Homo sapiens: one gene and its partners. The protein of the gene in region 1 purifies or fractionates together with the protein of each later gene. This does not show direct contact. Each region holds a gene or a part of one and is shown in the gene's direction. Other genes may lie near its edges.

Region 1 (9,101 bases):
TGCACATACCTTTTGACTTCCTCCTACTTACGGCTCAGACCCTGTGAGCAGGCATCTATCTCTGAGGGAAAAAGACTTGCCCAAAGGCCACAGCTAAAAAGGAGAATATGTGAGCTGAGAACAGTTTGGGGTCTATTATTTTCTTCACCATTTCACAAAGGACAGGAGAAAATAGACCAAGAGGATTTCATGAGTAATCCTTTTCTCCAGTGAGGCCAGCTAGGCACTCTGGACATGGTTGGTGCTAAACTTGTAAGAAGTCCTATTCAGGCCCGTCTCTTTACTGAAGATTTATGTGTTACTCAACCCCTCAGAATCCTTGGGGTACCTGAGTTCTTCACTGCACTTATGCAGGTGATAGGAGGTCTGTCTGTGACCCAGACAGATGCCACAGGCAGGTAAGACAATAATTGAGGAAATGAGTGAAGCACAGTGAGTAGGGCAGACGCTGTGAGTTTGGGTCTCCAACAGGGTAACTTGTGAAGAAGAGAAAGAAAGAAGAACCTACCCGATCCTGATAGCCCCCAACCTTGGGGAAACATGATATCCACTGAGTGCATGAAGTTTTCCATCAGCACACCTAGACTCAAATCCTAACTCTGCCAATCACTTGTGCACTCTACGTGGATCACCTTTTCTCTCAGCGTCCTGCTTTCTTCATTGATAAAGTAAGCTTGATAGTATTACTATTTACACTGTAACTGGTGGATTAAAACATGTAACATATTATTTATTTTATAGATGGCACATAATAATAGATTTTTTCTTTCCCTGTTCTTTCTTAACACTGATGAAAGAAATCAAAAACAATGTTTTCTTTTAATGCCTTCTTAGTATTGAGTGCTCTTGTCAATTCTGCATTCATGACAAACAACAAAGTCTAACTTAGATACATTAAACACAGAGAAAAGAACACTGTACATACAGGTAGAACCAGCTATGAATCCTATCTCTGCCCCTCACCATTCACTAAATGGATGTCTTCAAGACATCTCTTATCAATACTGATCCGCAGATCACTCCTCATATCATCTCTGCTAAGAGAGAAATTTATAAAATGTTACCAAAGTATGAGTGGGTTTCATGACTAGGCAGTAGAGAATAGGAAACCAGTGAATCAATAAACTCACAACGTGGTGGTTTGCAGACATTCTCTGCATGGCAGCTAAATACACTTCCCTAGAAGCATCCCCATCTGGTCAGAGATGGCCTTTACTACGATGGCCATCCTTGTCCAGCCTTACTTAGGTTTCAGTATTTTTGCACAATTAGCATCCCTGGTGTACGAAGAATGTGATAAATGAGCTCTCTGAGCAGTCATCTACACTCTCTCTGAAGAGTATTTGGATTTTATTTATCCACATTAATAAAGAGAGCCCATTTGTTTGAAAGAAAGAAGTAGGATTTCAAACGCATTTTCCATAAGTTTTAGATGTTCTCAATTGTCTGGCAATAGGAGAAATGTAAAGGAAAATAACAGTTATATGTAAACAAAATCGAGAAAGTTGCATCATAGGGAATATAGCTAACATCTACATAAAGGGTTTATATATACTTTTAAGAGGGGCGTATAAAAGCATAATTCATAAGAACAATAAAAACTACAATTAATGCCATAAAATGAAATCTAAATAGAATTAAGAACAGCAAGTGAAGCAAATGGAAAGGCATTATAGCCCACTAGTACTCAAAAACTATTAAACAATTATTCTTGAAATTTTAGATTATTAAATAAGCAGTAAGACAATATAGCCTATGAAATAAAGTATTAATTTTATATGCTTTGTGCCATTATATCCATTCCCTGAAATCAATCCTAAATAAAAGTTTGTAAAAAGGTTACAAAATTATATCCGATAATACAAACACACATTTTTCTCCAGGTACTACCTTCTTGCTCTTCTTCCACTCACAGATAAACTTCTAAAAGAAGTTTCCATCCACTGTGTCTCCAACCTCTCCTGCTATTTACTCTAGTCAATATATTCCAATCTGGATTTTGCCAAATTAATTCTGGCAAACCAGTCCTTTCTTTTCCTAAATGTAAAACGTCATGTTTTAAACACATTTCTTCCCTTAAACACCCTCTTATCACAATTTTCTCCTGGTTGTCCTCCTATTTTGCTCCTGGATGTCCTCCTATCATTTCATTCACATGCCCTTTTCAGGTTCCTCACTCTGTTCACTACATTAAGATGTAAAGGTCCTCAAGATCCAGGTTTTGGTCTTCTGATTCACTACTCAATTTCTACCAGACCTCATCCATCCTTGGGCCTTCAGGAAAAAGGTATAGCCCAGCTCCCAAATGAACATCTCTAGCCATGCACTCTAAATCCCAGAACTGTGTATCCAATTTTCAAGGCTTAAAGTCTTCCAGTTTCTGATGACAAAAACCACTTTTCTTTTGCCTATGGTTTGAGTTTATGATAGAGTTGAAATTAATTAATTGGTTAATAGTTTTATTTCTCCCTCAGCAAAAAGTTTCAAGAGGGCTGAAGCTGTGTTTCCTTTATTCACTTTTCTATCCTGAAAAGTCACATATCAAGTGTTTCATACAGTGTGAATGGAATGAATGAACTGAACTTCACTTGAGGTTGCAAAACCAACCTTGGCATTGATTTATTGAGTAAGGCCAGGTATGGTGGCTCATGCCAGTAATCCCAGCAGTGTGGGAGGCTGAGGTGGGAGGATTGTTGAGGCTAGGAGTTTGAGGCTGTAGTGAGCTATGAACCTGCCACTGCACTCCAGCTTAGTGACAGAGCAAGACCTTGTGTTTGTTTTTTTTAAATAAACAAATGCAAAATGATCTGAAAGTAAAACTCGAAATAATAAAGAGAATAATTTTCAAAATATAAAGTGAGGGGCCAGGCATGGTGGCTCACGCCTGTAATCCCAGCACTTTGGGAGGCTGAGGCAGGCGGATCACAAGGTCAGGAGTTTGAGAGCAGACTGGCCAGCATGGTGAAACTCTATCTCTACTAAAAATACAAAAAATTAGCTGGGCATGGTGGCGCGCACCTGTAGTCCCAGCTACTCGGGACGCTAAGGCAGGAGAATTGCTTGACCCTGGGAGGCGGAGGTTGCAGTGAGCCGAGATCGCACCACTGTACTCCAGCCTGGGTGACAGAGCGAGACTCCGTCAAAACAAAACAAAACAAAACAAACAAACAAAATATACATAAAGTGAACACTTTTTAATGTAATTAGCACAGTGTTAAAAGTGAACATTTCATACAAGCAAAAATACTGAATACAATAAATGTAGTAGAATCAATAATTAAGTACATGGGTAAATTAATAATATCATCCATGGTGAGCTAATGCCCCTAAGAACTGGATGCTTTATCATACAGTTGCTTGACATTACCAACAAGTATTGTGACAAATTTGATTCAATCATTTCATTATGCAGGCAGAAAAGATAGTCTTTTAAAATAACTAAACATATGGGAATATAATGAAGAGTGTCTATAGTAATCATTTCATGAAGACACAAGTCTGTTCCTAAGCTATTAATCTTACTTGCAAGTTTGATGAAAAAAAGAAGGATCTCATGATTTCTTGCTCCAACTTCCCATGTACAGAGGCTCTCTTCTTTCTTTTCCAGATAGAGACTGATTCCTTGGAAGTAGCTCTTCACAGCATTAGGGAGTTGTCATGGCCTGAGAGAGCCCTTCCACCCCTAACTCATTCAACAAGCAGGGCTCCAGGACTTCCCAATGCTGATAAAAATTCAGTGAATAATTTCTCCAGGCCAGTTTCATTCCAACCAACCTCTTGTGTTGAATAAGGTGACAATCTGCTGGAGCACCTTGTGGAGGACAGTGGTAGTCTAAGCCTTCTGAATTTTGCTGCCATCCCTTGGAAACAATAGAAAACATTCAAAACAGATGAACTGCCCATCAACAGGGCACTGGTTAAATAACTTATGATGTAACAACTCAGAAGGCAACAACAGAATTGTTTAAAAATATAAATAAGCCCTCTACACTAATTCAGGAAGATCTTGAAGTGAAAAAAAAAGATGCAGAACAGTGTACATGGTATGCTATCTTTTACATAAAAACGAGGCGAGTGTAAGAAAAACATGACTACATTCTTACTTTGCATATGCATAAAGAACTAGAAGGATTTAAAAGACAGAAACTTCAAAATTTGGAAAATGGAAGAAATTGTGTCAAAGTATACATTTATTTGTATGTCAAAATTTAAATTTACCACTAATTAAAGAAATGCAAGTTAATAAAATACTCACAAAGGGAAAAGTCAGAAGAAGGGAAAGACACAAACATTGTTGGTGATAATATTTTGGAAATATTGTCTTGGATCAGTATTTTACTAAATATTATCCATAACAGGGCTAAAATTTTGCTACCAGATTGTATAAGTTTACTACCGAGTCTATAAAACAATGGAGGATAAGAAGGTACACATTCAGGAACAAACCAATGGGCAAAGGAAACTATAGTATGTATAGTTATTGGAAAATTATGTAGCCATTTTTAAAATTGTGGAAAACAAAGGCATTTCAAGCCAAAAATTTAGAATATATCATTTACATAATAAAGTAACAATCTAGTAAAGACAAATATTTTGCGTTTGAAATTGTAACAAATTTGAAAATATGAACCAAAATTGTAACTGAAGTATCTACTACATAATGTGGGATAACAATTATTGTTTTGTAGAGGAAAAAAAAAATTAAGCATCCAGGTTTCCTCTCAATTTATACAAATGCCGCATTTCACTGTTATTCAAAAAAACAGAAGCTAGGAAGCGTAAAGCTTTGAAAAATTATGCATTTGGGGAACGTAAGAGCTCAGATATGCGAAAAACTTATATCAAACGTGCAGCATAACACACTTGCTTGCACACATTCTGTCCTATTTGGTCCCACATACAAGGCAGCTCTAAGAGGCCGGGCTGGCGCCCACCCCACACAGCTCCGCTTCCCCAACCCTCGCCCTCCCGCCTCCCGGGTACTTCCTCCCCCTTCCCCACCCCCACCCTCCCGCTGACTGACGAGGTCTGGAGGCCGCGCAGCCGCAGTAGCCGCTAAGGCCGCTCCCACCCCGTGGTATCCTGGGACTAGGCTTTTCCGGAAGGAGCGGCTCGGTGTTGGGGCTAGGCCGGTATTCTAGGCCCAAGCCCAGGCCCAGGCCTGTGTTCCCGGCCCTTGCTCAAAGACAGGCCGGTGGCCGCTGCGACACTCTAGGTACAGCGGAGGGCGCAGCGGGCCGTTCGCTGAGGTGTCCGGACCCGCCGCCGAGCGGGCCGTGGAGCCACAGTACGTGGCGGCGCCTCTTCCTTGCCCGAAGCGGAACTGCTGAAGGAGCGGCAGCGCAGGCCGGACGAGGTGAACCAGGTCATTTAACCGCCTTCAGGTGATGAATCATCTGTCTAATAATCAGATTTGAGGTCCACAGCCCTTTGTGGTCCTGCTACAGGGTGATTTTCAGTGGATGACTGACTGGCGTGGCCCGAGGGGTGCCGCAGTGACTGCCTTCCCTTGATAAGGAAACGAGCTTTCTGTTCTTTCTGGACACCTCGTTACCTGTAAAACATTCCGGTTATAACTTCTTTATCCGGCTTGCATCTCTGTGCAAGAGGAAAGCTTTCACATGAAAGTGTCCCTTGGTAACGGCGAAATGGGCGTCTCTGCCCATTTGCAGCCTTGTAAGGCAGGAACCACACGCTTTTTTACCAGCAATACTCACAGTTCGGTGGTATTGCAAGGCTTTGATCAGCTTAGAATAGAAGGATTGCTTTGTGATGTGACCCTGGTACCAGGTGATGGAGATGAAATCTTCCCTGTTCACAGAGCTATGATGGCGTCTGCTAGTGATTATTTCAAAGCCATGTTCACAGGTGGAATGAAAGAACAAGATTTGATGTGCATTAAGCTTCATGGGGTGAACAAGGTTGGTCTGAAGAAAATCATTGATTTTATTTATACTGCAAAACTTTCTCTTAATATGGACAATCTTCAGGACACACTTGAAGCTGCTAGCTTTTTACAAATATTACCCGTTTTGGATTTCTGTAAAGTATTTCTTATATCAGGAGTCTCTTTGGATAACTGTGTTGAGGTTGGACGAATTGCTAACACCTACAATCTTATAGAAGTGGATAAATATGTTAATAATTTCATCCTGAAGAACTTTCCTGCTTTATTGAGTACTGGGGAGTTTCTAAAACTCCCTTTTGAACGACTTGCATTTGTGCTTTCCAGTAATAGTCTTAAGCACTGTACCGAACTTGAACTCTTTAAGGCAGCCTGTCGCTGGCTAAGGTTGGAAGACCCTCGGATGGATTATGCTGCAAAGTTAATGAAGAATATTCGATTTCCACTGATGACACCACAGGATCTCATCAATTACGTGCAGACAGTAGATTTCATGAGAACAGACAATACCTGCGTGAATTTGCTTTTGGAAGCTAGCAATTACCAAATGATGCCATATATGCAGCCAGTGATGCAGTCAGATAGAACTGCCATTCGATCTGACTCCACTCACTTGGTTACATTAGGAGGAGTTTTGAGGCAGCAGCTGGTTGTCAGTAAAGAATTACGGATGTATGATGAAAGGGCACAAGAATGGAGATCTTTAGCCCCAATGGATGCTCCCCGTTACCAGCATGGTATTGCTGTCATTGGAAACTTTCTTTATGTAGTTGGTGGTCAGAGTAATTATGATACAAAAGGAAAAACTGCTGTTGATACAGTTTTCAGATTTGATCCTCGGTATAATAAATGGATGCAGGTTGCATCATTAAATGAAAAGCGCACATTCTTTCACTTGAGTGCCCTCAAAGGACATTTGTATGCAGTTGGTGGGCGCAGTGCAGCTGGTGAACTGGCCACAGTAGAATGTTACAACCCAAGAATGAATGAGTGGAGCTATGTTGCAAAAATGAGTGAACCCCACTATGGTCATGCTGGAACAGTATATGGAGGCTTAATGTATATTTCAGGAGGAATTACCCATGACACTTTCCAAAATGAGCTCATGTGTTTTGACCCAGATACAGATAAATGGATGCAAAAGGCTCCAATGACTACAGTCAGAGGTCTGCATTGCATGTGTACAGTTGGAGATAAGCTCTATGTCATTGGTGGCAATCACTTCAGAGGAACAAGTGATTATGATGATGTTCTAAGCTGTGAATACTATTCACCAACCCTTGACCAGTGGACCCCAATTGCCGCCATGTTAAGAGGCCAAAGTGATGTTGGAGTTGCCGTCTTTGAAAATAAAATCTATGTTGTTGGTGGATATTCTTGGAATAATCGTTGTATGGTAGAAATTGTCCAGAAATATGACCCAGAAAAAGATGAGTGGCATAAAGTTTTTGATCTTCCAGAGTCACTTGGTGGCATTCGAGCCTGTACACTCACAGTTTTTCCACCTGAAGAAAACCCTGGGTCACCTTCTAGAGAATCACCTCTTTCAGCACCTTCAGATCATTCTTAGGTCTAAGGTGTAACACCTTTGCAGTACGTCATGGGTGATCTAATACTTCCCCTTCAGTTGTATCTTCTTACAGTGATTGGTACAGTTATTAGATATAAAGGTAACTGATGTTATTCGTCTTGTATGGCTTTTAGTATGTTTATCAAGTGGCTAACAAATGCATTCTGAAAATGTATTTAACATAGCTGTTTTAACAAATGAAAAAAAGACGTAGAAAAATGTTTAGATGTCTTTTTGTGATGTTATATAAAATTGTAGATGACTGTGGTAAATGTGTAATTATGTCCATTATGCTTCAAAGTTGAGTTTTCATCTTTGACTCCAAAATGTCAGAGGGAGGCCGCTCTAAACTAAAAATAACGAAAGGTTGCCAAGTATTAATACTAGTTACCTCCCTCTTTTCGTAGTTTTTGTCATGTCTGTCAACTTACTCGATTGTGTGGTTGCATTCAGAATATTTGAAGTTTCTTACGTAGACAGAAATAATAAAAATATTAACTAGGAAAAAACAGTATAGCACCAAGCCAGTATTTGGTATCTCTCTCTAGAGCGAGCAAGAGAGGGAGAGAGGAGGAAAAAATACACATAATACAAACATACATGCATGCACACATACATACATATGTATACACACACATAATTTGAAAACTGATTGGCACTTCAACGATGCTGAAATTGTTTTTAAATTGAAGTTTCTTTCTTCCACAAAGCAGCCGTTTCTATTCAAATGGAAATTCAGTACCAGAGAATAAATGTCTATGTAGTCATACTGAATTTAGATAGATAAGGGCTACAGCATACTAAATCGACAACCAAATTTGTCATGTGACTAAACCGTTACTTCAGATGAAGCTTACATTACTGTTTTCTGCTTGTGTATTTTCTGTAGAGTACTTTTACACAGATTGGTAAAGTTCAGGTTTCAGAGAACTGCTTTTGTGCAGAAAATTTAGGTTCTTTTTTCCACCTTTTTGGTCAGTAAAACTTAATGAAAAAAGCAAAGAAAAAAATATTCTGAACAAAGCTATAGGGTTTTAAGTTCAGCCTCCCAACTTAGTCATCCTAACATGATTATTTTGTGATTTGGGGTGCTTGCCCTGGTGCTGTTCCAGTCCATGTGCATCCTGAGCTGTGTGATCTGCCTCGAGGCTATGATCTGAGCAAGCAGGAGATAACATTTTCTTCTGCATCAAGTGAGGAAAAATGTGCTTTTGGCCATGTCTCAAAGACAGGACCAACTTCAGATTCCCAAAGAAGCCAGCTACAGAGCCTCTGGAACACTATGGTCTTACAAGCAGTACTAAAATCAACCCTCAGCCTCTTCAATGCCAAAGGTATCCCTATTGGTTGAGAACCACATGGTAATTTTTAATGGGACTTTTATCAGCAAATGGAGTTACAGGAATTCTCTGTAATGAGTGATTCTGAAGAGGTACTTTCCTGGAATAATTGTCTACCTGAAGAAAAAAAATTTATATATACATTGTGTGTGTGTGTAATACACACACACAACCCCCTATACCTGGAAGATTGTCAGCATGTAAATCAGGAACAACTTTCTCCTTATTGACAATCCCATAATAAAACTCAGGAACCAAGGCAAAATGAATTGGCTTCTAGGGGTCT
Region 2 (8,024 bases), on another chromosome or scaffold:
CTAAACACTTGTATGGGTGTCTTTGTACTTATTCTAGTAACTTTAAGCTTAAAATTCTTTACAAATAAAATGTTAAAAAAAATGAGAAGGCTAATAAGCACATGAGAAGCTTAACGTCATGATTCATTAGGGGAATGCAAGGCAAAACCATGATGAGATGCCCCTAGACACCTCTTAGAAGAGCTGCTAAGAAGGCAGACAGCACCAAGCGCTAAATGAGATGGGGCACCTGGTGCTCTTCTGTGCTACTGGTAGGGGTGCAGCAGAGTGGTCAGTCTGGACAGTAGCTGACATCACGTGACCCAACACACGCATTCCTGGCTACTTACCAAGGAGAATAGAAAGCAGGCAGATCTCTACAGCAGCTCTCTACCTGATTGCAAAACAATGGAAATGCCCACATGTCCACAAACAAGTGTGTGGTCTGCCTGTGCCATGAAGCACAGTGTGGCTGAGCGTCAAGAGTCCCCACACTCAAAGGAGGCAGCAGATACAGGGCTGCACACTGTGTGATTCCACACATGTGACATTCTGGACACGGACATGCTGGATGGCAAAACGAGCATCGGGCTGAGAGGACTGCTGAGAAGGGGAACGGGGCTGCTGGGATGTGGGTTGATTGTAGCAGTAGCTCATGGAGATGTGACCTCAAAAGAGTGATTTTTACTATGTGCATACTATACCTCCACAAACTTGACTTTAAAAAAATAAAATATTCACAGAAAAAAACAAAAACAAATGTAAAACCATCAGACTACTTTATCAGAGGTGTTATTTTTAGATAGAGGTCTTTGAACTCCATCCTAGGAACATTGTACCCATGTCCTCCCAGAACTGCATCTTGCACTGGGTGTCGGAAGACAGCCCTGCAAGACCTGTATGCTCTGTACCATTCAGTGGTTTTTAAGGTTAACTACCAGAAGTCATATCTGAGGCCTCCCAGAAGCATTACTCTAAGGAAAGTAGTTAAATGTGGACAGTGACAGCAGAAACATTTACACATTAAACCAGTTTATAGAACATGAGAATGTTCAGAGCATAAAGAAGCTTGTCAGCTCAATGACTTACGAGGCGTGGGCCATTAAAAAAAAAGGTCTGGAGTTTGGGAAGGAGAAAGGAATGGGGATCTGCAGCTCAGAGTGAGAGATGGAATTCTGTAAAGGAACAGTGTGGAGAGGGACTCCAGGCAAGTCAATAACGATGTTAGAATGCCCTTGTTTAGAATAATTATCATGCTAATAATATTGTTCATATTGTTTTTACTAATATGCTCATCCTTAAAAATAGAAGATATTCTAAGGGTACTAAATAAATAAATAATTAAAATTTTGCAACTGAGACCTTCCTCTTCCAGAGCCTTTACAAGAACCTTTATAGACAACACCTCAGGTCCTGTTTGCTGCCCCAGCATGGAGGGCAGCCCACTTGGTTACAGTGATGACAGATGGAAACTTGACTGGAGCAGGTCTGGAAGGCAGAGGAGGCAGGCCTGTGTGTATATGGTCAGGACAAAGGACCAGTGGTGCTAGCCACACCTGTGGGATGGCTGTAATTAAACACACACACACACACACACACACACACACACACACACAACAGAAGATAACAAGTGTTGGTGAGGGTATGGAGAAACTGGAGCCATTGTATGCCGCTGGTGGGAAGGTAAAGTGGTGCAGCTGCTTTCGAAAATAGTATGGTAGTTCCTCAAAAAGTTAACTGTAGAATTACCATATGACCCAGCACTTCTGGGTAAATATACAGAAGAATTGAAAACAGGGACTCAAACAGATGTATGTACATCAATGTTCATAGCAGCATTATTCACAACAGCCAAAAAGTGGGGGCACCTGAAATGTCCATCAGTTGATGAAACAAAATGTGGTTTATCCATACAGTGGAATATTATTCAACCTTAAAAAGGAATGGAGTTCTGATTCATGCTACAACATAGATGAACATTGAGGAGGACATTATGCCAAGTGAAATAAGCCAGACAAAAACAAACAGATAACTGTATTATTCCATTTGTGTGAAATGTCCAGAACCGGCAAATCTGTAGAGGCAGAATCATTAGTAGTTGCCAGTGGCTTGGTGGGGTTGAGGGAACAATTTAGAGGAAGGGTTAGAGCAAATGGGGAGTGACTGATAATTGGCACAGGGCTTCTTTGTGAGGTAATGAAAGTGTTTTGAAACTAGATAAAGGTGATGGTTGTGCACCATTGTGGATATACTACATGCCATTGGTTCACTTTTGAATGGTAAGTTTTGTGTTAAGTGGATTTTGCCTCCATTAGAAATTGTTCAATATAAAGTCGGCTCACATCTCCTCATAAAATACCACACTGATGCACATGCGTGACGTCTGTGAGTGAGGATGGCCCCCTTGGAGAGCTGCACTGCCCAGCACAGTAGCTGCTAGCCACATGTGGCAGCTGAGTAAACACTTGACAGGTGGCTCACGTGACTGGAGAACTGAATTATTTTATTTTAATTAACTTAAATTTAAAACCTACTTGATTTAGTTACTGGAAAACCTTGAATATTTTTGAAACAACTTGGGCATGTGAATATACCCTTTCAATTGTAAATATTATGAAATCTGAACACAGATGAAGTATTTCTGATGAAAAAGTGCAGTGCTCATCTTAATTTTTGTTGGGTTCAAGTGTACTTCTGTGTCCAAAGTACACTTGTGGACACAGAAGATTTGGGGATGTTCCCCTCCTTCCTGTTGGGCAGGTGGCTCATTGTCTTCAGGTCCATCTCCCACTGTGCCCAGGAGCCCTCCACTCTGGGTGTGTGTTTGGACCTGGCCAGTGAAACCCTGTGTTGGGGTCTGTGGAGTGCCAAAAGGCCTGAGAGCACCAGCACCGTCCCCTGGATGGTATGTAGGCCGACCCCCTGCCCACATGGTGCTGATGGTGGGCTGTCAGCCCCAGTGTAGCTCTGCTTTGCCTCTTCATGCTGGGCAATCTGGAAAAGGCCCTTACTTCCAAGGGTTTGTCCTCATTTTTAAATACAAAAAATGGTATGTATGGTAAATGGTAATGGTATGTGTTTTACAGGACTTGTGAACGCTAATAAAATAAGTTACATGGATCACAGTAATAACTACTGGTGAAGATAAAAAATTCGTAAAGGATCTCTTCTTTCCAGAGATTTACAGTTCTGTGAGTTCCTCTGAAGTCTTCCCTGGAATAGAGAAAACAATGCATTTCCCTCTTGGAAGGTTTTCATTGCATCAGCTTGGTAAAGACGAGGTAGAGTTTGTAGTGTTGGGGTCTCTGAGGGTGAGTCAGGTCCCCGTCACACAAACTGTAAAGTCAACGACAAACCAGCTTAGCAGAGTATCTGGAAATGGAAGATTCATCCCAAATTTAAATTGCACACTGGCAGAGCAGCGTCATTTACTGGGTAGAGCTGGCGTGTAGGGGAGCCACCCACTCCCCCTGTTCACCACTCCCCCTATCTGCATTCGGAATGTCAGACAAGATTTCTGGGATGCTGGCTTCAGATCATGATTGCAGGTTTTTGTCTTGCTCTTCCCAGTTCTGGAAAATCTCCACTGTGTGCTCTCCCGCACCACATCGGTGCCCACCCTCTTCATTAGTAGAACACATTCTCGGACTTGATCCCTGGGCTCTGCAGAGTCTGGTGCTGAGTACCTTCTTTGGTGTGGGTAGGTTTTGGCAGCAGGAGCTTGGAGGTGGGAAGGTGGAAGGTGCAGTGTTAGGACACTGCTCTCTCAAGCCCGTGTATACTGGTGAGTCTCCAGTGCTCCCTCTTGGGGGGACGTGGTGTCCTGTGGACTCACTGTGACCTCTTGAGTGTCACAGTTACCCTGAGTGTGGCTTGGTAGGTTTTGCCCACCTGGTCAGTAAGTGTCCTGGTGGCTGCCACCTCCATGGATGAGAGCTGCTCTCACTTGCGGGCCCTTTGCTACCTTTTCTCCCTTTCTGTGAGCACCTAGTGGTTTAATCCCATCAGAGAGTCCCATCACACTTGGGCATGTGAATGTACCTCTTTCAATTGTAAATATTATGAAATCTAAACACAGATCAAGTATTTCTGTTGAAAAAGTGCAGTGCTCATCTAGGGCAAAGTAGACAAACCCACTCTGTTGCTTCTTGGCCACTCTGGTAAGAATTTTGAGCCCAGCCACTGACCACAGCAGATGCAGCCAGTTTTCTTGTTTTCTGTGTCTGTATGACCACTGATAACAGGGCATGGTGTGGCCAGGGCCCTCCTCTGTGTCCCTGGGACAGGCCAAGCAGCCAGGGTCACCTAGGTACATACAGCACCCCTCACGTTTGCTCTCATACTGCAGTTCCAGTTGTCTTTTAAGTTTTTATGGTAATGACATGAGTCTCACAGACCCCAACACTGAGGGCTGGATCTTAAATGCTGGGTGCTGCTTCCTTTGACCAAGGGATGTCTGTGCCATCCCCACAGAGGTGCCCAAGGAGGCCTCTTTTGGGGTTGTTTCTTGATGGTCGTTTCTCCTTCCCAAGCCATCAGAGAACTTTAGGGAATGGGGCTGGAGGACCCCCTCATGCAGCAAGCTTGGCCCCAGTGAGGAAGAAGTGGGGACAGGGCATGGTGCCCTGTCATGGGGTGAGGACTCCCCAGGAGATTCTGTCATGCATTAGGCTGAGCCCTAAGTCTCATAGGTCCCAGCTTACCCCTAAGATAGCAGAATGTTGGATGTTGCTCTTGGAAGCAAGAGAGATCACTGGAGAGGTAGTTGGTTGATAAGAGCTAAGCAGAGCCTTCCATGGCAAGCATGGGGGCAGGCTGGGTTGGCCCAGGACAGGTCCTGGTGTGGGGGGGTGTCATGGGTCTTGGAAAATAGCCTTTCTTCATGAGAGTGGGCAAGGTGTGCACATGGAACAGGCACTGTCCTGAGTATCCAGGACCTGCTGAAGAAGGATAAAGGCATCTTCCAGAATGTCAGTCCCCTCAGGTATGTGCCTCCTAGCTCTTCCCTGGGATATGTTAGCACAGGCAGCAAATGCATTCCCAGGCACAGAGGGTCCTGCCTTGGGTTCTGGCACCCCCTCTTGTCTGTCACCTCCCTTTGTGTAGTTGGTCCTGAGCTTATCCTGGACACCCATCCCTCAGTGGGCTCTGCTCTGTCCCCAGCCCTGGACACCTGTCTCAGGTCTCTGACTCAGGTCTCTGTCCTGCTTGTCCCCAGGTGAACCTGAGCAAGGTGGGCGAGTATTGGTGGAACGCCATCCTGGAGGGAGAAGAGCCCATCGACATTGACAAGATCAACAAGGAGCGCTCCATGGCCACCGTGGATGAGGAGGAACAGGCGGTGTTGGACAGGCTTACCTTTGACTACCACCAGAAGCTGCAGGGCAAGCCACAGAGCCATGAGCTGGTACGAGCATGGCAGTCCTGGAGAGTCCACCCTTTAGGCCCTTGTGCTGGTGACAAGGCCGATAGTGGCAGAGGGGTTGGTGATGACGGTGGGGAAGAAGGTTGTGTGGACCAGCTTCCTGCCATGTCCTAGCCTAGCAAGGAACCTGTCTTACCTGCTCTTGTCCCCAATCACTGCCTCACAGGTGCACTCTGGTCTTTCAGCTGTGTTCTCATACCTGGGCTGAGAGCCCAGTTAACAGGACCTCGAAGGGTGTCATGAGATCTGCCCTTCCTGCACCAGAGCCTGGTAACATCAAGTGTGTTGATGGCTTTTGTTTGTGCCTCATCTGCACATATCTTCCCATGAAGAGTCGCTTGGTGGGACCTTTGGTAGAGGAGGGGAGGGAGCCAGATTGCAGAGCCAGTTTCTGGATGTTGGAGGCCAGCATGTGAAGACTCTGTGATGTCAGCAGTGGGTTAGGGAGGAGGAAGAGAAAGGTTCCTGTCTGACCAGTGTAGTGCCCAGTGTAGAGTTTGCTCATGGCCAAAGAGAATGATTAATTAGATGTATACATTCTTTCTTCCTATTTTAATAACTCCAAGAGTAGCTATTTAGGGAAAAAAGGGTTGCTTTCCTCAGATTATTTTTAACTTCCCGTGTCCCATATACCCAGCACGTGGGTTTGGGCCGCAGTACAGCAGGGCACGCGGACGCAGTGCAGCCTTGAGTCAGTGGGGAGGGGTCATCTGCTGGGCACAGTCTCCTTATTTTTGTTCTGTAAACACGGACCGCCTCCTCCCCCTGAAGATCGCTGATCGATATTTTCTTCTCATTTTGTCTCTTGGAGGAACCTTACCTTGTGGTGTATCTGGATTGTCTTAGTCTTACCTTCCGGTACAGCACGTATTAATACATCGTAGGTGGTTCTGCAAGCCCTGTTGCTGTGTCTCGTCCGTTCTTGCCTATTTTCACAGACAGGTGCATCCTGCTCTTATGAGGTGAAGGAGCCTGCGGAGAGGAGTGTCAACATGTTCTCCTCACCTGGCCCTGCCACACCAGGGGCATGTCCTGAGCACTTAGTACACACAGTTAAGGTGGGGTTGACTGGCTGCACAGTACCCCTGAAAATACAGTTTGTTTGTTTTTTGTTTTTGTTTTTGTTTTTTTCCCCCCACAATAGAGAGATTGAATTTCTGAGGTTGTGACTCAGTAGCTTAGGCAGCAGGGATGGGGTTTGACCTCTGATTTGATTTCACACCTGTCTGTCCTCACAGCCCTGTCCACCCTGGCCCTTGTCTCTATGGAAGAGAATGTTCCTCTAGGTTTGGCCCCCTTTTCCACCCGGGGCATGGCAAGCTTAAAGGACATCTTTGCTTGGCCTACGTCCATGCAGAGTTTGAAGCCTCAGGTAGTATTGCAGCACCTGCTCAGCTGAGCTCAGCTCAGGTGCTTAGACAGCCAGACCTGCCTGGTTATGGCTCATTCCAGTTATGCTGCATTTGCCTGTGGCCACTAGATGAAAGGCCAGCCTTTGAACCTTTGCCCTGTGGGTAGGGCTTCTCATGGTAGTGTTTGGGGATGGTGTATGTGAGGGTCTGCCCACTCTGTGCCCATATTCAGCATTGGGTCCACAAAAGGACTGAGATGTATTCATGAGTTGACCTTCGGGAGAAAGAGTCTGTTTTGACTGGAGAACATGAACCCAGATGCCTTTTGTTCCAGAAAGATAAGAAGGCAGTCTTACCATGTACCCCTTAGAAGTGTCTTTTTGTGCCACAGGATGGAGGGACTAAGGTCAGGTGGTTTCTCACATCTTCCCCAGACACTGACACTGAGCCTTTGTTACAGAGAGATGATAAAAATTATTGTAGTTTGAATGGTATTTGTGCGTTTGTCAAAGCCTTGATGAAGTTTTTGTAGACTTTATTTTATTTTATTTTTTAAATTTTTTGAGACAGAGCCTCGCTCTGTCACCCAGGCTGGAATGCAGTGGTGTGATCTCAGCTCACTGATACCTCCGCCTCCCAGGTTCAAGCGGTTCTCCTGCCTCAGCCTCCTGAGTAGCTGGGACTACAGGCGCACACCACCACGCCCAGCTAATTTTGTATTTTTAGTAGAGACGGGATTTCACCATGTTGGCCAGGCTGGTCTCGAACTCCTGACCTCAGATGATCCACCTGCTTTAGCCTCCCAAAGTGCTGGTATTACAGACGTGAGCCACCACGCCTGGCCAGTTTTCTGTAGACTTTAGCTGTTGAGGCATGAGAGAAGCTAGGATGCTCTGGCTGTTTTTATCTGTGAGCCCTCATGTTTCCTGTGATTGTATCTCTTACAGAACTTTATATTCAAAAACAAAATAGCAGGAATACCTGCTCATCATTGGAGTTGCCAGTAGTGCCAAAGACACGCATGGAGGTGTCAGGGGCTCCACCAGCCTTTTCTTCTCTACATCCTTGCCCCTCCCCTTCCCTCCTTTCTTTCTGTTTCCCTTTTCTTTCCCTTACATCCTCCCCTCTCCTTGACCTTCCTCTCAGTCTCTTTCCCCCATCCTTTATGTTCTGTGCCAACACCTTGTAACATTGCATAGTCTCACCCCTCTATTGGGGCACGTCGGTGAGGAAGACAGACACAGATCTGCCTTTGTGGTGCTAGGATT
Region 3 (8,607 bases), on another chromosome or scaffold:
TCCCCCATCTCTCATTCTCTGTGTCTTCCAAAGCACAGAATGAAGTTGTTCTCTGAAGTTTCCTTCTCTCTCTAAAGTCTGGACCCACATAAGAAGAAAAAAAAACCCTATGAACCCTTTTCTGAGTTTTCATGAACTGAATTCATATCACAGAAAGACAGGCTGAAGTTTGTCAACACACTTGAACAGACATATATCCCAAGCCATTGTCTTCTCTGTGGACCCAACAGGCTTTGTACTGGCCATTGTACATGCTCTAAGTCCACTGACTTCCTCTAAAAATCATTTTCTATCCCCTTAAAAATATCGATACTTCCTGGACTCCCTTTTCCCTAAGAGCAAGGGTATATAACTCTCTGGACCTCATATGGTTGGGAAGTAATCGCTGTGATTTTCCTCTGTGTGTAGTGATACAAATTCGTATGCCTTTTTAAAATTAATTTGATTTTTGTCAGTTGATTTTCAGCCAACCTTCAAAAGATGAAGGGGAAGGTTTCCCTTTACCCCTACAGTGGTTAAAACAAGGAATATCTATCCAAAGAATTTGTTATATAGGCAATGCAGAGCTGAAAAGCCGAACAAGGGGAGTGAGTTAAGCCAGAGTTTAGCAACATCAAAAAGGCATTACTACCCTTAATTTGGAGAGAGAAGTGAGGATGCACAGCTTCTAAATCTCAGGGACCTACCTCACCTCACTGGGGAGACCTAGAATCAGGCAAGGGCAGTCTGGTGAGATGGGAAACCATCCAAGAGATACATACAGCCCAAAGAGATGCCATCAGAGGAGAGGGAGGAGAAAGAGAAATAGCCTGGCTATACCCTTTCTCTTGCCCTCCAGTACCTTTCCTTTGCCTGTTAGCCAAATCTGTTTCAAACCCATCTGACTTACGAGCGTGAAACATGCAGGGATAGTCCTCTCTGTGATTTACAGCAGAACAATAGACGCTCAAGGAATCAATCTCGTAGCAAATAGGAACTAAGGCTTAAGTAACTTGCCCACGATCACAGAGCTAGAAGTCCCTGGGTTGTTCTTCAGGGATCATGTGCGCTGAACATGGGAGATAGGTCTTGGAAAGTGACATTAGTCACATTCTGACATGTGGTTTTCTCTGCCCATATATATCATAGGATAATTTCAGGGAAATGTGTGCCCACCAATATGGTGGGAGAGACTTTGTCTTTTGAGTATAGGTGAATGGACTAAAAAGTGATGAGAAAAGGTCTGAGGCCTCCAAGCCATTTTCAGTGTGCAAGTATAACTTCGGGCCTGTTCAAGGTAAGTGAAAGCAAGTGATGCAGGCAAGAAATAACACACTTTTGCACTGGCTCTCCGTTGATAAATTCTAGCTGTTTCTCCATAGTCCTTACTTTCTAGGTGGACCTTGCAAAGCACATTAGACTAGATTGCTTTTCAATGCACAAAACTTGTTTCCCCCAAAATGATTCTAATTGGAAGTGCCAATACTGGCAGAAAATGTGTGCAGGTACTAGCCTTTAAAGTGCTAATGCATCTCTTACCAATCTACGAAGTTACAGGATGGGGCATGAAAAAATATATTTGACGGCACAAAAGTATGAAGCATAGGATTAAGTAAAGCAGATTGAATATGACTGTTACGGGCTGAATTTTGTCTCTCTAAAATTCATAACCTCTCTAAAAAGTCCTAACCCCTAGCACTTCAGAATGTAACTGTATTTGAAAACAAAGTCTTTAAAGGGGTTATTAAGTTAAAATGATGCCATCTGGGTGCGGCTGAAATCAAGTATGATTTATGTCCTCAGCAGAAGATGAAGAGATACTGTGGGCACACACGGACCATGGAAAGAGGCAGTGAGAGGGTGGCCATCTGCAAGGCAAACAGAGAGGGTGCAGGAGAAATCAACCCTGCTGGCACCTTAATCTTGAATTCCCAGTGTCCAGAGCTGTGAAAAAATACATTTCTGTATTTTTAAGACACCCAATCTGTGGCATTTTGTTATGGCAGAACAGACAACTAATACAATACCAAAGAAGCAACATCTAGAATCCCTCAAAATGTGAGGCACTATTGAGGGCTGGAGAAACTAATAATGACACATTTTGTCATATAGAATAATATGGCTGGGCTGCCAGGACCACAAAGCTATCCACTTGGAATGAGAAGTTAGAGTTAGATGTGCACCACAAAAGCACAAATACATTTGTTTTCTCCCCTTCATGGCTGCCCACTTAATTCAATAAGCATTTTATTGTGCATGTATTAGGCAGGCAGTACTCTTGCAGGTTGTAATCTATGAACACCTGATTGCTAAATAGTACCATTATGACATCATAGAAGACTCCTCTTTAAATGATTGCTTATTGTTTTCTTTTTGCTCTTTTACATGGAGTCTTGCTCTGTCACCCTGGCTGGAGTGCAATGGCACATCTCGGCTCACTGCAACATCCGACTCCTAGGTTCAAGCAATTCTCCCTGCCTCAGGCTCCGAGTAGCTGGGATTACAGGTGCCTGCCACCACATCCGGCTAATTTTTGTATTTTTTAGTGGAGACAGTGTTTTGCCATGTTGGCCAGGCTGGGCTTGAACCCCTGACCTGAGGTGATCCGCCCACCTTGGCCTCCCAAAGTGCTGGGATTACAGAGGGGAGCCACCGTGCCCAGCCTGCTTATTGTTTTCTTATTGGTGGAAATAAAATTATCCCAGAATGCCAACACTCCTAAAGGAGGAAAATAATTCAGATCCTCATTGCAGTAGATTTAAAACCACTCTTTTGTAATGGAAATTGTCTAAATCTGCTCCATGGATTCAACAATTCTTTGCTGACATGCCTGTAATCCAGGTAGCTACTTCAGAGGCTGAGGCAGGAGGATCCCTTGAGACCAGGAGCTCAACACCAGCTAGGGGGGAAACAAAGAAAAGTCCTACAAATGTGTTTTGGCAATATGGTAAACTTTTGGTATCCGGAAATGGATTTTTAACCCCTTTCTAAAGATACCTAAGGCGGAAGAATACCAATTTTCTTAGTTGACATATAAAATACAATACTGAGTATTGCTAGAAATAACGTTTTGACCCAAAACAGAAAAATAGTCTTGCAGTTTGTCTTTGTCTATTTTATGCTGCTACAACATAATACCTATGAATGGGTAATTGATAATGATCAGAAATTTGTTGGCTCACAGTTCTGGAGGCAGGGAAGGTCAAGATGGATGGGCCGTCATTTGGTGAAGGCCTTCCTCCTGTATCATTGCATGGTGGAAGAGCTAAGAGAAGGGGAGAAAGAGAGAGAGGGAAGGAAAGGAAAAGGGAAAGAGGCAAGAAGGAGCCAAACTCGTCCTTTTATAAGGAAACTGTCCTTTTGATAGGGACTGCACATTTGTGATAGCACCATTAATTAATTCATGAGGTCAGAGCTCTCATAACTGAATCACCTCTTATTAGGGCCCACCTCCACACTGTTGCATTGGGGATTAAGTTTCCATCACACCGTTTTTGGGGGGATACATTCAAACCACAGCATTGTTACACACAAAATATTTCATATTATATGAAATATGTCACTTAACATTTTTACCTGAATGTCAACAACATAGAGTAATGTAGCAGTTTAGAAGTTATTAAATAATATCTTGAGGATATATAATTCCGACACACATGCATATTAAAGCTGACTCATACAACACAATTGTCACGGCGCAAATTTAAAAAATGAGTTAGGAAATCCCAGCGATGGGTTTTGTGTGCCAATTTATCTCAATTGCTCAAATTTCTCTAATTATTCATCCCAATTGTAAGCCTTCTAAAAAGGAATGCCTATGAGGAAACTTGAAATTTTCTTCTCAATGTTCTTCAGTACAACAGTTAAAAATATTTAAAGAAATGCTGAGTAAGTAGGAAACCCTCAGAAGTAAGCTGAAAATGAACAGTCTCAGTGGGCAAATAGGTCTACCATATAAAAGCTCTATTTGATGATTATCTATTGTAAGATCATCTTTTTTTTTCTGTATGGAAGTAACAAATTTAACTCAGAGAAAAGTTGTATTGCCAAATTCTTGAAATTAAACCTTAGTATCTGGCAACATTTTTCCTCCCATGGTACTAGATTACTAGATTTTTATGTTAAATTTAATTTTCTTGAATTCAAATGTATGAGCTTGATTTCTAAAAAACAAACAAACAAACCAAAAAACCAAAACCCTCATATGGAGAAACATGAAGTTAGCATATAAACAAGAAAAGAAGAAACTTTGATCTATAAATGAAGAAAAATGGGTTTTGATAAGCTCTCTTTGACAGGTCACCCTCCTTGGGCTTCAGAGTTATAAAAAAATCGATACGTGAGATTAGAGATGTGACAGTATTTCTAAATTTCTGTTTCCAACCGTTTCATGACTTTTCATTTCCTCTAGAAAAGACATAGGATATTAATATAATAAGATTTGCAATTTGTTAAATATCAAATGAGTCAACAAATATGAAGCTTCAAGGAAAAGGTGACAACAGGTGGTACCAGACATCTGAGCTGCAGAACAAAGATGGTTGTAAAGTGCACAGAACTGTTACAAAGCCTTAAGAGCTACTATAATCCATGATTATTAAATAACACCACATACTATTTCAATTAGCATTTGCCAAGCTTGCTTTCCTTGTCATTGGATTAAAAATTATACCCGGATTTTCAAGTGTATTCTATTTGTGACAATATGCATTGATAATTTCTCTCCTCACACTGCTGCACTCTCACCTCCGTTCCCAGATTAGCTCCTGGAACTCGAGATATTTTTGTGGCTAGAGATTGCTTTCTTAATGTTAGATTTTCCTTACAATTCCATATATAGTCAAGCATTCCATGCATGGTAGTTAATTGTTTGCTTAATTTGGCAACTGGGATATTAGAATTATGTATCATTAGGCAGTGATATTTTTGTAAGGTTGTTTGCTAGATAGATCCTATTTCATTTATATTAAGTCTTGGGAAGATAAACTTTATTTTTCCAGAGCCTAGCAGTGACTGACACATATTCGAATGAATGAAGGTAGATAGAAAATGTCTATATTCATTTACGTAATGATTAGTTAAGGAGAAAAGTACTTCCCAGCATAAAGATTTCTGGCAACCCTTTGCTTATTTGACTTTTCCCTTCAGGCAAGTTCAAGGCTTGTGAAATTCCTAGAAAGGCGAGGGGAGAGAACGCGTGACACAGAAAGGGGCCGGAGTTCGGGACCCTACGCAGTTTTGGGACGTTATGGGCATGGAGGGAAATGTTTGCTTTGGAGGCTTTGGGTAAGCTAGGGATCCGACAAGCCCTGGGCGCAGGGAGGAACGCTGCCCTCCGGCCTCCAGTCGCGCTCCCCGAAGCCCAGCGCCAGCGTCGCGCAACCTGCCGCAGGGGCGGCTCCCGGGCCAGGCAGCCAGGCGCGCCCTCGCCCCACCCGGGAACGCCAGGCCCGCGCAGGGAGGGGCGGGGCTCCATGGCGGCCCCGCCCCGCCGCCCGGAGGGTCACAATGTAGGGTTAGGGCGGCCGGCGGGCGGGGCTCTGCGGGGGAGGAGCCGCCGGGCGGGGGCGGGGATGGCGCGTGGGGGAGGGGAGGGAGGAGGACTCGCGGAGGGAGGAGGACAACGCCATTCCGGGCGGCCGCTCCCTCCGTCCCCTCTCTCCCTTCCCCAAAGCAGCCCGCGGACCGGCAGCAAAGGAACGTGCGAACGCGTGACGCCGCCCGACTGGCTCGCGCTCTCCCGTGCCCCGGCGTCCTCCGCCCGCTCATGGCCCGGGCCGCCGCGGACGAGCGGCGCTGAGGCGGGCCGCGTGGAGACGTGAGGCGGCCGCCGTGGCCCTCACAGTCGGCGTTTCGCCGCCTGCCCGCGGTGCCCGCGCACGCCGGCCGCCATCGCCTTCGCGCCTGGCTGGCGGGGGCGCTGTCCTCCCAGGCCGTCCGCGCCGCTCCCTGGAGCTCGGCGGAGCGCGGCAGCCAGGGCCGGCGGAGGCGCGAGGAGCCGGGCGCCACCGCCGCCGCCGCCGCCGCCGCCGCGGGGGCCATGACCGTGGAGCAGAACGTGCTGCAGCAGAGCGCGGCGCAGAAGGTGAGGCGAGTCCGCCAGCCGGCGGGCCCCACTTCTCCTTCCGACGGGCTGTCCTCTCCCGCTGCGGCCGGGCGCCCCGGCCTCGCCGCCGCCGCCTTCCCGGGCTTCCTCCCCGGTCACCCCCGGCCCCTGCCCATCGCCTCGGGGGCGTCGCGCCCAGAGCCCAGCTGCGTGTGGGAAGCAGAGTGTAGTTTGCGGGCTTCAATCCACTTCCTTCTGCCGATTGTTTTCCCGTAGCAGACGGTGCCAGGTATTGAGAGCGACCCTCACATTCCTACAGTGCTCTGTGTGGCATCTTAATGAAACTTTATTCTCTCCCCTTAAATGAGAAAGAATAGCTAGTTGTCATCCTTTCTGAACCGATTTTGTCTTTCAAAGGTAGTAGTGTACCAGGCCTGCTATTTTGCAAAACGGTCTCCACCAAAATCGAATTACCTGCCTCGCGGGGCAGGCGTGTTGACCAGGTGGACTCTAGAAGTAGGTGGTTTGCTTGGTTTCTTTTCCTTTTAAGGTTTCCCTTTCTTCTTCTTCTTTTCTGTTTTTTTTTTTTTTTTTTTTTTTTTCAATATAGAAACTGTCCCTAAGAGAGGAAACCTTTCTGGCCATGTTATTCCAGGAATCTTTTGTCCCCTAAGTTTGACCTTGTTCTTTCGTTCACCCTTTACTCTTGCATCAGTCACACATTCAAATGGTCACTCACTAAAGAAAACAATTAAAAAACTGTTTGTGAAACTTTATATCTTTAAAGTGAATAGAGATCATTCTGCTATTTTAGATTTTGCTTTCAGAATCTTAAGTGCACTATCATGGCTTGCACCATGTTCTGAAGAGTAGTTGGCCATGATTTAACTTCTTTTTTTAATTTTTAATTTGCGTGAAAAGCATTTTGGGCAAAAGAGTAAACCGTGCCTTAGTTGTGTTGGTATTACGGGGACAGTTAGGGTTTACTGTGATCAACCACCAGAGTTATGTTTGGTTTATCTGGGTGAGTAATGAATGCCCCACCCTGTTGTAGATTTGGTGTAGATTGCAATATTCTACCTGTGCTTGACTTTAGAATAAGACCTGTTCTAAAATGGGCTGTCTACATACAGCCTGCTAAATTTTTGCTTTGAGATTATTTTTAGAATTTTATGATACTGCTTTAAAGTAATCGAAGATACTCAAGTTTGGAAAGCAAGGATAGTGCATTGTTATTTTAGGCACGTTGGGAAAGTTGTTTTTGAGACTTGTATGTTAGTTGATATTATTGGTAAAGTTAGAAGGATATTGCACACTGCACTTTATTTACAGTGAAATAATTCAAGATTTAATAATGAGAATTTAAAAGAGTTTCCTTCCTAATCCTCCCTATTCTATTTTGAATACCTTCAAGTTCAATTTTTAAAGACTTAAGGCTTAGGAAAGAGCACATGGTCATGTGAACGCTAAGCAATATTTAATATGTATGGTACCATTTGTTTATAATTGTCTTCAGTGTTGAATATTAAAGTCTGTTTCAAAGTGAGAAATACCAATTTTTCACTTCCTAAGTTTGAACAATGGGAAGAACTTTGTAAGTTTAGGATTTTTTTATTTTCATTTGATTTTGACTAAACTGTATTAAATAACTATGCAGGCTCTATTGTATGGTTCAGAGGTTATGCATAAAATTGTAGAATCAAGAATCAAGTTAACGAAAGTGATCTTGGCTGTCGAGTCCAATTTCCTACTTTAATGAATCCCCTCCACACACAAAGGGAGTAGTAGTTAATTCAAAATATTATCATTATGATGCTACTTTTAGTATGGCTGTGTTTTAGATCATTTCATTGTTATTGGGGATTTTTTTTAGAGAAACTTTTATACTTCCATAATATTTAGATTGTTTTACAGAAGAAACACTTAAATGTGTTTGCTTTCCGTATTAATACACGATTACTTTGTTACTCATATTAGAACTATTTAAAAATATTTATATGGATACAAGTAAACCATCTACCTCGATAAGTTGACAGATTTAAATCCGTCAAGCTAGTAACCAGGAAGCGGACTTAAAGCTGGTAACTAGGAAGTGAACTTCACACTTAGAAGAAACAAAAGTGAAAGTCTGTTTTTACTCAGACACTTTATGGGTTATCTAAAAGGAGAGGTGTGTAGTGTATATTGCATAGCCAACATTTTAGCCAGTTTTCTTCTCACCTTAAAAAACTGTGTGTACATATGTGTTTTTAAATTTTAAGTATTTACTATTTAAAATTTAAGTATTTACTATTTAGCTATATTATTTTCAAGATTTTTAAAACTTTTATTTTGCAGATGGATGTAAGTTTTTTTGTTGTTTGCAGCACCACACTACACAAAACTTTCATGATTTTTTGGTTCGCCTATAGAATTCATTAGTCTTTGTCACAATGTAGTATGATGAGGCAAGAGGCTGCCTTTCCCTTTTGATGTGTTCTTTGCTTGATTGCTGGAGTTTGGCCAACCCAGGGACTTATGAGATGTAGTAAAACTGCAGAAAGCTGCTTTTCTGAGGTTTAGGTATTTCAGGTGAGGTGCAG

The links.
Region 2: the proteins of KLHL9 (region 1) and NUDCD3 purify together in Homo sapiens (co-immunoprecipitation; 3 studies listed by BioGRID and IntAct, with this or other methods). This does not show direct contact.
Region 3: the proteins of KLHL9 (region 1) and USP25 purify together in Homo sapiens (affinity purification with mass spectrometry; 3 studies listed by BioGRID and IntAct, with this or other methods). This does not show direct contact.

Annotation. Positions count from the first base shown.
Region 1 is NC_000009.12:21,331,380-21,340,480, reverse strand, and holds the start of KLHL9 (kelch-like protein 9), read left to right. Parts: upstream 1-5,076; 5' UTR 5,077-5,621; coding exon 5,622-7,475; 3' UTR 7,476-9,101.
Region 2 is NC_000007.14:44,389,659-44,397,682, reverse strand, and holds part of NUDCD3 (nudC domain-containing protein 3), read left to right. Parts: intron 1-5,197; coding exon 5,198-5,386; intron 5,387-8,024.
Region 3 is NC_000021.9:15,724,375-15,732,981, forward strand, and holds the start of USP25 (ubiquitin carboxyl-terminal hydrolase 25), read left to right. Parts: upstream 1-5,607; 5' UTR 5,608-6,019; coding exon 6,020-6,064; exon of another isoform or gene 6,065-6,314; intron 6,315-6,628; exon of another isoform or gene 6,629-8,607. UniProt on the Homo sapiens protein: Deubiquitinating enzyme that hydrolyzes ubiquitin moieties conjugated to substrates and thus, functions in various biological processes including inflammation and immune response.